2 separate regions of the Homo sapiens genome follow, and region 2 is linked to region 1. A link means that fine-mapping ties the variant in region 1 to the expression of a gene that starts in the linked region. Tissue or cell type: whole blood. Region 1 holds a variant in brackets; the other region holds the start of a gene. All regions are shown on one strand. Distances are from middle to middle.

Region 1 (5,144 bases):
CAGCCTCTACTGGCCAGGATGAGCTTAGGCCAGTACCTGGAATGTACCATGGGCATGCCATGGGCTCTTGCTCTTTCTGACATCCACCCCAGCCCTTTGCACATGCTGTTCCCTCTGCCTGGCACACACTTCCCTGGACCCCTACCCTAGCATCAACTGCCAGCTCCTAGGCATCCTCCAGCACTCAGCTTCCTTGGGGAGGCTCTCCTGGCCCCTGCACCCCAACGAGACCATATCCCTTGAGGCACTGTGCACCACCCCCATCCTAACACATACATGGTCCTTGTTTCAGTTCCTTGAGCAAAGTCCAAATTCTCACCAGACTAAGTTCCATGCGGTCAGGGGACCATGCCGTCTTGCTCCTATATTCCAAGTATCTGGCGCTAGCTCCAAACTACTGCTGGTAAGTGTGTGCTGAATGAACATGAGATCGTAGCCATTTGTCAATGAGTTCAACACCTATGCCAAGCTCTAAGTTCTGGGGACCGTGGACTGTATCTTAGTCATCTCTGCATCTCCAGCATGGAGCCCAGAGCCCAACACGCAGCCAGGCACATCAAGGTTATCCAGACCTTGCAAACCACACAATTCAAAAATACGATTATTGGAGACTTCTTTTCTTCTTTGTGCCTGTCTGAATTTTCCATATCTTTTTACCATGCACATGCATTATTTTTGTAATTAAAACATCAATCAATCAATCAATCAATGTTGCCTTACATTTATTATATAAGAATGTTCATAGGCCAATGATTGAACAATATGGACTGGGGGGATCTCCTGTTTCCCCACTGCTCTGGGGGGCTCAGGAGGGAGGTGAGACACTCTGGGACTGGCGGCTAAAAGGCAATGTTTCCTAAAGTTGTATTTTTAGGAGCGCTGGAAAATTCTCTGGGCAAGAAGGCATCTGAAGTATTTGCAAACACTCAGCAATGGGAAAGATAATATTTCCTAAGACTTTCCCTTTTGGGTGTGCTGAAACCAGTGGCAAATATTCTGGAAAACTCTGAGACCAGCCCATGACAATTCTTCGGTAAGTCCCTCTATTCCCAGAGCCCTGATGGATGTCACACAACCCAGAATCACCTACACCCACTCCTTATTTCACAGAGGAGGAAACAGAAACCCAGAGAGGAGAAGTAACTTGCCCAGGCACAGAAAACAGACCAGTTGCGAAGTCAAAGTGAGACCTGAAAGCATTTTATACCTCACAAAGCACTTCTGCACAGCTTCCCTGACTTTGGCATTTCATCAGAAAATGTTCTGGTTTTTTTCCTCTGTTATCCAGAGGAGACAGCACAGTGTGAGTGTTAGTGGGGAAGGGGTCCCAACTTCTTCTATCACTGTGTAGGTTCAGGAAAAGGAAAGCAAAATCTATTATTTTCATCCCATAGAAGACAGACATTCTTACACACACAGAGGCAAGAGGGATGTAATTTCAGAATAAAGAATAGTCCTTTAAATCAAATAAATGTTGCTTTCTGAAAAACTCACTGAAGTGGTTCTCGTTCTTCCTGTTTTCTTGAGGACTGGAGGAAAGCCCACATCGGATCCAGGATCTTCATTCCTGTTCAGGAGTCTCAGCTCTTCCTACAAACCTGTGCTACCTCCCAAACCAAGCCCGTTTCCTTTTTCCCCAACATTCTCTCTTCCTTGTAACCTCCACCATTTCTTAAAGAAAACAGAGACATTGCTAACCAGACACAGCCAAAAAGCAAAGTTGACAGGAAGCAGGAGGAGAGGGAAAGGACGTGACCCCGTCCTGGAGCCTGCACTGCCCCCCGCCACTCACCCAGAGGTAGCGCAAGAGCTTCAGCAGGCTGGGGCAGTAGTAATACTCCATTTCCAGCACCCAGAGGTTATGTGGTGAGCACAGTACGGTTTCCAGCTTTCCTCTAGCGGGAGCGGCTCTTCTCACTCCTGTCACGCTGGAGTCAAGTTCAAGGCGGCATAAATCATTCAGAAGCCGGCTCACGGCCAGGGGACCAGCCAGTCGGCTCCACTAATGGCCACGGCTGCCTGGGGAACTGAGAAGCCACCACTCGGTCCTATGAGCCCCGCCCGGGGCATCTCTGGCTTCTCGTCCAGTGGGGCGGGTCCAGGGGTGGATCCTTCTGAACCCAGCTGCCTGGACCCTCACCCTCCCGGGAGCCGTAGGCACGGAGGGTTTTAGGGTTTTCAGTTGTACGGCAAGAAGGCAAGAAGAGAGAAGGTGATGCCCGGGAA[C/G]TGAATGTGTGCACGCGTGTGTGTGTGTGTTTATGCATGAAGGAGTGTGTGTGTACATGCTTTTACGTGGAGTCAAGTATGTGTGCATGTGTGCATACGAGTGTGTTTTGTGCATGTGTGGACTGACTGTGTGCTGTGCGTGTGAGCCCAAATGTATGTGGTTCCTCCTCCCCAAACCACATGAGGAGAAGGAGGCCCTGCCACTCGTTACAGGGAAGGAAATCAACTCAGGATCCCATTGGTTTACCGGGCTCCTTTGATGTCAGTCATGTTCCTTTTAAACTCAGCTAAGCTTCTGATCCCCCCAGAAGGAGGGTGTGGCCATCCCCATTTTACAGAGAGGAAAACCGAGGCCCAGAGAAGTCAAGGGACTTGGCCAAGGTCACGCGGTGAGTTGGTAGCTAAAGCAAGGCTGGAACCCAGGCCTCCCAGCCATGATTCCTGGGCCCGTCCACTCCTGTGGACACCCAGCCCAGCATGGGGAGTGGGGTGCTGGCAAAGGGAGGGATCAGCTCCCTGAGGCACCAGCTGCCAGCTGCACCAGGTGGGGAGTGAGGAGAATGTCAATTTTCAGAGATTAAAATGCAATAAAAGCACACCTCGGGCAAATCCAAGGCAAACTTTCCCAGATGTTTCCTTCAAAAGAGCATGATTTTAGCAAGTCACCTCATCCTCCTGAGCCTCAGTTACCCCTTCTGTAAAATGCGACAAATTATCCCTGTGTTCAGGGCTTTGAGGATTCAACAAGGTAGAATCCTGCCAAACCATCTAGTTTAGTTTTCATGGTCATATCATGAGGGCAGTATCATCACTTCTACTGTCCAGATGAGGAAACCAAAACTCACAGGGTCAAAAGAGGTTCCTGAGGTGAGCAGCAGCTAAACAGTGAGACAGGGATTCAAATACAAGCCAGACGCTCCTGGATCCCCTACTCAACACCTGCTCCTCATAAGCCGAGGCCATAACCCAGAGACTCCGGCAAGTGAGCGCCGGATGCAAGACAGCTGTGCTTCTGAGGCAAGGTCCTTCTCACTGCTGAGAGGGGAAAACTGAGGCGGGGGAGGTGTTCACAGAGGCACCAGGCAGAGGCCCTGGGTTCTGCACCAGGCTCCCGCCCCCAGGCTGGAGCTTGGCACACTGACTGCCCCAGCAACATCCTGGGCCCATCTGTGCTGCATCCTTCAGCCTCACCACTGGACACCAGGCAGAGCATCTAACAGGAAACTCACTTAAATAAGGAGAGGGTGGGCTGGGCACGGTGGCTCACGCCTGTAATCCCAGAACTTTGGGAGGCCAAGGTGGGCAGATCATGAGGTCAGGAGATCGAGACCATCCTGGCTAACACGGTGAAACCCCGTCTCTACTAAAAATATAAAAAATTAGCCGGCCGCGGAGGCGGGCGCCTGTAGTCCCAGCTACTCGGGAGGCTGAGGCAGGAGAATGGCGTGAACCCGGTAGGCGGAGCTTGCAGTGAGCCGAGATCGTGCCACTGCACTCCAGCCTGGGTGACAGAGTGAGGCTCTGTCTCAAAAAAAAAAACAACAAAAAAACAAAAAACAAGGAGAGGGTGCTGGGTGCAGCAGCTGAGAAAACCACGGGGTAGCTTCAAAGCTCTTCAGAGGCAGGCCTGTGGTTTCATTGATTCTCAGCGCCCCACTCCCAGCAGGCACTGGGTCTCAGCTGCTCGCTGCCTGACAAGTCAGGGGTTGGCCCCAGCGATGGCAGAGCCAGGGACTGGCAGCACAGTCAGAAGGCCGGCCCTGCTCCCTGATGGCACAGTCGGAAGGCTGGCCCTGCTCCCTGACGGCACAGTCGGAAGGCCGGCCCTGCTCCCTAACTGCCAGACAGTACAGCTGAAAAGCCAGCCCTGCTCACCAGCTGACAGTACCAGTCAGAGGACAGCCCCAGCTGACAGCATAGCCAGAGCACTGGGTCCTGCTGACCGACAAAAGTGCAGCAAAAGGGCTGGTTCCTCTGCACTGGCGGCACCGCTGGAGGGATGATGCCAGCTGCCTGGCTGTACCCCTGGCGCTGCGTGTCCTGGCTGACTGGCTGATGAGTGTCAAGTCTGGGGTTAGGCCCCGCTAACTGAGGGATTAATAGAAGTGGGGCATGCAGCGCTCGCGGCTGCCCTACTGAATGACTGTTGCCATAAACACAGGGGCCCGCCAGGGCCTTTCTGACACCCCTTGGCTGACAGGGGCCACAGTCAGCATGGAGGCTGCTAAGGGTTGACTGTCTGGTCTCCTATCAGCCCAGGACAGAGAAATGCCCGGAGAGAAAGGGGCTGGAAGGAGGCAGACAGGATGCCAGAGACAGGCGGGATGGAGAGAGGAAGAGAGGATGGCAGGCCAGGCGCAGGGCAGAGGGAGGAAGGTGGGAGGAAGGAGAAGGAAGTTACAGGCAGGAAAGGCATGAGACAGGGAGGGAAGGGCAAGACAGGGAACACAGAGGGTGAAAGGAGAAAAAGAGAAAGACGAGAGACATGGAGGGAGAGGAGAGGGAGATGGGTGGGGTAGGGGTTCTGATGGGAGAGCGACAGGCAGGGCAAGGGATGAACCCCAAAGGAAGTCAGAGAAAGTAAGCCAGACTGATGGCCCGGGAGGCGGGCAGGGACAAAGAGCACCAGGAACAGCCGGGGAGAAAGCTGGAGGTGGCAGTGACAATGGTGACAGGGCAGGGGGCTAAGAATAAAAAGAGACGTTCAAAGGTCCAAGACCCGGCGAGTCCAAGGTGGAGACAGAGCCAATCTAGGACCAGGTGGGGGGTGTGGGGAGGGGAGCACCGCTGGGCAGGTGCCAACAATGGAGACCCCCAAGTCCCCATCTCCCAACCAGAGGTGGTCAGACGCACCAGGGCACACCCCCAGGAGAAGCTGCCCCCAGTGCCCAGTCCTGGTTATCCTGCTCTGGCCGCCC
Region 2 (5,144 bases), 120 kb after region 1:
CTATGATCATAGTTCTCCCCTTCCAGACAAATGCATATGTTCACAAAGACTTTCAGGGCATAAAGTATCCCCTTAAGGATGTGGCTGCTAGCCTCATCTTTGACACAGTGTCTTGAAATATTTGTTGAAGGAACAAATGATAAATAAATGAATGAATGCACATATAAAATATCCCTGTGAGGCTCTGTTTCTGAGTTGGTCAGAGATGTAGCCTGGTGAGGAGAAATGCTCAGAGCCAGACAACTGGCTCCTTCATTCTCCTGCCAAGGTCAGCCTTCAATAAAAAACAGCCCCGGCCAGGCGCAGTGGCTCATGCCTGTAATCCTAGCACTTTGGGAGGCGGAGGCAGGAGGATCACCTAAGGTTAGGAGTTTGGGATCAGCCTGGCCAACATGGTGAAACCCTATCTCTACTAAAAATACAAAAATTAGCCGGGCAGAGTGGCGGGCATCTGTAATCCCAGCCACTCTGGAGGCTGAGGCCGGAGAATTGCTTGAACCCGGGAGGCAGAGGTCGCAGTGAGCCGAGATCGCGCCATTGCACTCTAGCCTGGGCTGCAGAGCGAGACTCCATCTCAAAAAACAAAATAAAACAAAACAAAACAAAACAAACGAAAAAAAGCAGCCCCTAGGACCTCCAGTGGGGGTAGGGGCAGCTTCCAGCCTCTGAACCTAGGGTGAGAACTGTATCCCCAACATCAAGAATCAGTACTAGACTGCAGGGCAAGCCGACTGCTCCATAGCTGGAAAGTAACTCCAAGAGGACAAATCCTGAGTTGCCCTAGGCCACACCATTTCTACAGTGCTCCTGACATAGGTGCTCAATACACGCTGGTTGATGGAGCCAGCCAGTTCATGTGCCCAGCTGAAATGTATGTCCAGACACTGCATTGAAACTCTGCACTTCTCTTGGGTAATTGCACCCTTGTCAAGCATGCAAATCCTTTAAAAAGGATCCCCCTGCCAGAACCACCAAGATCTGGGCTTGTGTCTGTACAAATTCCTCGGGAACTGTCCCTGGCTGCAACAGGAAGGAAGGAGGCGCCAGAGTCTGGGGGTGCACACGTTTGTCCAGGAACCTTGATGGATTAGCAGAGGGAAAGCCAGACCAAGGGAGAAGCTTTGTCCAAATGTCTTGGTTACTCATTAGCCAAACCTCAGAGCTTCTCTCTGCAAGGGGGGATCAGAGGGGCAATTAACCCATTTGGAAGAAAGGTTAAGCTAAATAGCTCTCTAATCCTGCGGTTTCAAAAGATAGCAAGTAGGGTTTCTGGAATCTTTAGATACTGTAAGGCAAGCACAGGGGATGGGGCACGGGAAAGGAGAGGCCATAGACTGAGGGAGGCACTGATACTTATAGAGCCCCTACCTGTTTCATACCCTTCATTCCGATCCATCCTAGGCCAAGCCCATTTTGCCCAGAGGGTCCCCATCTGGATTCAGATAGGTTAAGTGTTTTGCCCAAGGTCACAAAAAAGGTGCAAAGAAAGTGTTTTTCTTTGTGCAACAGGTACAGTCCTTTCCCTTCCAAAAGATAATGGCTGCTCCTGGCTAGAGAAAGTTCAGTCCCGGCAGGCAGGAAGCCCTAGCCACCTAGGCGTCGCGCGGTGGAGGTCACACGCCTGCTCCGGGACTGGACAAACAGCAGGGTTTTAAGGCGCGGCGTCCCCACTCCCAGGCGAGTTTGTGCCAGCAGGGTGTGAAAAGGTCAGGCTCGGGTGGGGGTCAACGAGCCGCTTCCCATCCCGAGGGCCCCACCCGTGAGCCCGGGTGGGCCGCGCCGCCATCGGGGCGGGGACCACGCGGGCCTGCCTGGTAACAGGGGGACTGAGGCTTAATCCCATCAGGGCGCCTCCGCCCTGGGAAGACGAGCGGAGGGGGGGCGCAGGCCAGGCCGAGAGGACGTGTCCGGAGCCTCCGCGTCCGAGGGGCCCCGCGCGCCGCCCCTCTCACGCCCCCCGAACCACCGCGCTGTCCTCCGGGCTCCCCTCGACCAGGGTTCCGTCTCGCTCGCCGCCCTTGCTTCCCACTTCCACCTCCGGGGCCTCCAACCCGCACAAATGTCCAGACCCTAGCAGCTCCAGGCTGAGTAACCCAGATCTCCAGCGATCCCTCAGCTCCTAGCCACGGGATCTCTCTGAATCCATTCCCAAGGCTCAGGCTGGCATGGGAGGAGATTGATCCTCTCGCTCCCAGTCTCGAATCACCCTTCGCCGTCACCCCTGACTGGGGATCCAGTGGGACCCCAGGCCTCCAGCGCCCGATCCCCTCCAGGGATCGACTCCCAAGTCGCCAACCAGGTGGCACGTGATCCATTGGTTGCCCTGTGCGGGATCTTCCCGCGGGATCCACTCTCAAGTCTCGGGAGACGGATTCCCCGGCTCCCAAACCGGGATCCTCCCTCCCTGCAGACCCGGAGTCTGGGGAAATCCTCCGGCTCCCCGCCTCTTCCCCGGCCAACTTTGCCAACTTTTCTCCCGGGGCCTCGGCCGGGCAGAAACTTGGCGGCCCTCGCCAGCCGCCGTCACCCCCAGCTACCTCGTCGGCCGGGGACAGGAGGCGGCCAGCCGGCCCCCACTGCCCGCAGCCGCTGCGCAACCTACCGTGGAGCCACCGCCAGCCCGCGCCGCGCCGCCACCTGCCCGCAGCCCGCGGCACCTGCCCTGGGAGCCCGCAGCCCCGCGCAGCCTAGCCTGCTGGGGGCGGGGCCTCGAGCGGGGACGCGCCCCCGTCACCATGGGAACTGCCGCCGGCCGCGCCTGCGCGGAGGGGAGCAGAGCAGGCAGGACCCGAGTCCGCAGTGGCGCCTGGGCCTGGGACCTCTCCGGCGGGTCAGAGGTCACGACTCGCTTGGACACCCCTGCCGGAAGCGCTCCCGCCCCTCGAGGCCCGACCCCGCTCTGTCCAATTGGGAACTTTGCTCCGGGTACCCTCCCGCGTTCCCTGGATGTTCCCCAGTCACCAGCCAGGATCCCCCGCCACCGGCACCGACCCGCTGCCCAGCCGGCGACCCCGAGAGCCTAATGCAACCCAGGATTTCAGGAGGCGCTCCATAAATGTGGGCCCACTGACTTGCCTGGGCTGCTGGTGCCGGCCCGGGGGCGGGCAAGGTCTGTGCGCGGTGCTGGCGCCTCCTCGCGCCAAGCAAGGGCACTGCACCTGAGAGTTCGCTGGAGCGCCTACTGTGTGCGCATCCTCCTGCCATTATGTTGTGGGTGTGAGTTGTGGGGTAATGGGTACAGGAACTTGTGGACAAGTTGAGAGAATCGTAGGAAGTCGCCTCTGAAAGAGAAAATACCTGTTCTGTTATCCGTTACTCATTTCATTCAGCAGATCTTTATTAAGCACCTATTGCATGCTGGGTGCTGGAGAACCCAGTGGTGGGCAGCTGGCAAAATCCAGGCTGTTGTGCAGCTTACAGATATTCAAACAAATAATTTCACGAGTATATCAAATTGAATCTGTGACATGTGCTCCTATGGGAAATGTACAGAGCATGAATAACTGGAGGACCTAAAATCAATGTGCCTTTATTATAAGCAAGATAGACCTCAATAAAAAAAGAGAAAGAAAAGGACATCACAGGCTGCGCACGGTGGCTTGTAATCCCAGCATTTTGGGAGGCCGAGGCGGGTGGATCACCTGAGGTCATGAGTTTGAGACCAGCCTGGCCAACGTGGTGAAACCTCGTCACTACTAAAAATTACAAAAATTAGCTGGGCGTGGTGGCGGATGCCTGTGATCCCAGCTACTCGGGAGGCTAAGGCAGGAGAATGGCTTGAACCCGGGAGGTGGAGATTGCAGTGAGCCAAGAGCGCGCCACTGCACTCCAGCCTGGACGACAGAGCAAGACTCCATCTCAAAAAAAAAAAAAAGAAAAAGACATCACATTGTGTGGCTTCAGGAGGATTGGTGGGGAGACTTCTTGCCTCATTTTGCTCTTAAATTGTTGGGTGTGTGTAAGAAACAAGGGTAGCTCCTGTTCTCCACACCGTTTGCACTGCAACCCTTTTGAAGGTCTGATCATCACCATCAGACCCAGGCAGGGTAAACCCTGTTTACCAAACAGCAGCCCGAGAACCCCCAACTGACTTGTGTACAGTGCTGGAACCCAGGAATTGGGGGGCAGAGGTCCCATGAGGTCTCATGTCTCAAGACATTCTCCTTATCATCTGGGTATCTTGAGTACAGTCATCAAAAGGATCAAACCCAGTTGCTTTTACAGACAACTACCACTTCCAGAGAGAAGTCTGTGAGTAGGAGACCAGGAACGGCTGGGTTGAAACTTAAAATCCTTCAAAATCCACGTAAGTCAGGCCTTTACATGACGTGTATGTTATACCAGCAAAGGAAAATCGTTGATTGTCTGCTCTTCTCTCTAGACCTCCTGGAGGAAGGGACTTCTGTCTGTCTTTCACCTCCGATTCCCAGTGCCTAGAACAGGGCTTGGCACACAATAGGTGCTCAAAGAATGTATGCTGAGTGCATGAATGACCAACAGCTGATGACATGCCATCTGCTGCCCCTCCTCCCTAACCTTATGGGAACTTCCTGTCTCTCCTGGGCAAATCTCCATGAACCAGAATGCGTAGGCTGGGGGTTCTGTTCAATGGAATGTTCCATGTTTCTCAGCTCCCCAGCCAATGCAGGCTTCCACCTTGGCATCGCCTCTCCATTCCAGAACATAAGGATGGGAGGGGACAAGATAGTCCTCCTCCTGCCACCCCCCATGGAGACTCAAACCCAGACACGTCCCCAGCCCTGACCATCAACCCTACTCTCTGCCCCAAGAGATGCCCAGCCCAGACCGGGTGTCAGCTCTTCTATCCCTGTCAAGCTTTAAGGGGATTCCAGAGGTGCTGAACTACAACTCCCAGAGTCCTCCTGAACCTGGACCCAGAAGGGGCAGGACTTCCTGGTCAGCCCCCACCTTAGCTGGTTCCCCCTGCATTCCTGTGTCTTCCCGCCTAGGTGAGAGATGCCAGCTCGCACATACCCAGAGGTAGACCCTGACCAAAGAGGTGTCAGGTAGTACAGTTTCCGGAGGCAACACCCCTCCCTCCCCCAACCTCACCACTCCCAGCCCTGGCTTTTCTTTTTCTAAGAATAGAGCACAGTGCTTCCCAGGGATTTTCCCAGAACCCT

Evidence for each region. PIP is the estimated chance that this variant, and not a neighbour inherited with it, causes the effect.
Region 2: KIAA1671 starts here. The variant in region 1 is fine-mapped to the expression of KIAA1671 in whole blood (TOPMed, PIP above 0.99).

The regions. Positions count from the first base shown.
Region 1 is chr22:25,067,065-25,072,208 of GRCh38, reverse strand. All of the region lies in intron 6 of KIAA1671, which reads right to left. Among named protein-coding and RNA genes, the nearest start is that of KIAA1671-AS1, 43 kb to the left of the region's middle. RefSeq lists enhancers at 2,036-2,586, 5,131-5,144. The variant C/G (reference allele first, on the strand shown) is at 2,227.
Region 2 is chr22:24,950,231-24,955,374 of GRCh38, reverse strand. It overlaps KIAA1671, which reads right to left and starts at 2,659. Exons shown (of 13, transcript NM_001145206.2): 1 at 2,603-2,659. RefSeq lists a silencer at 2,593-2,842.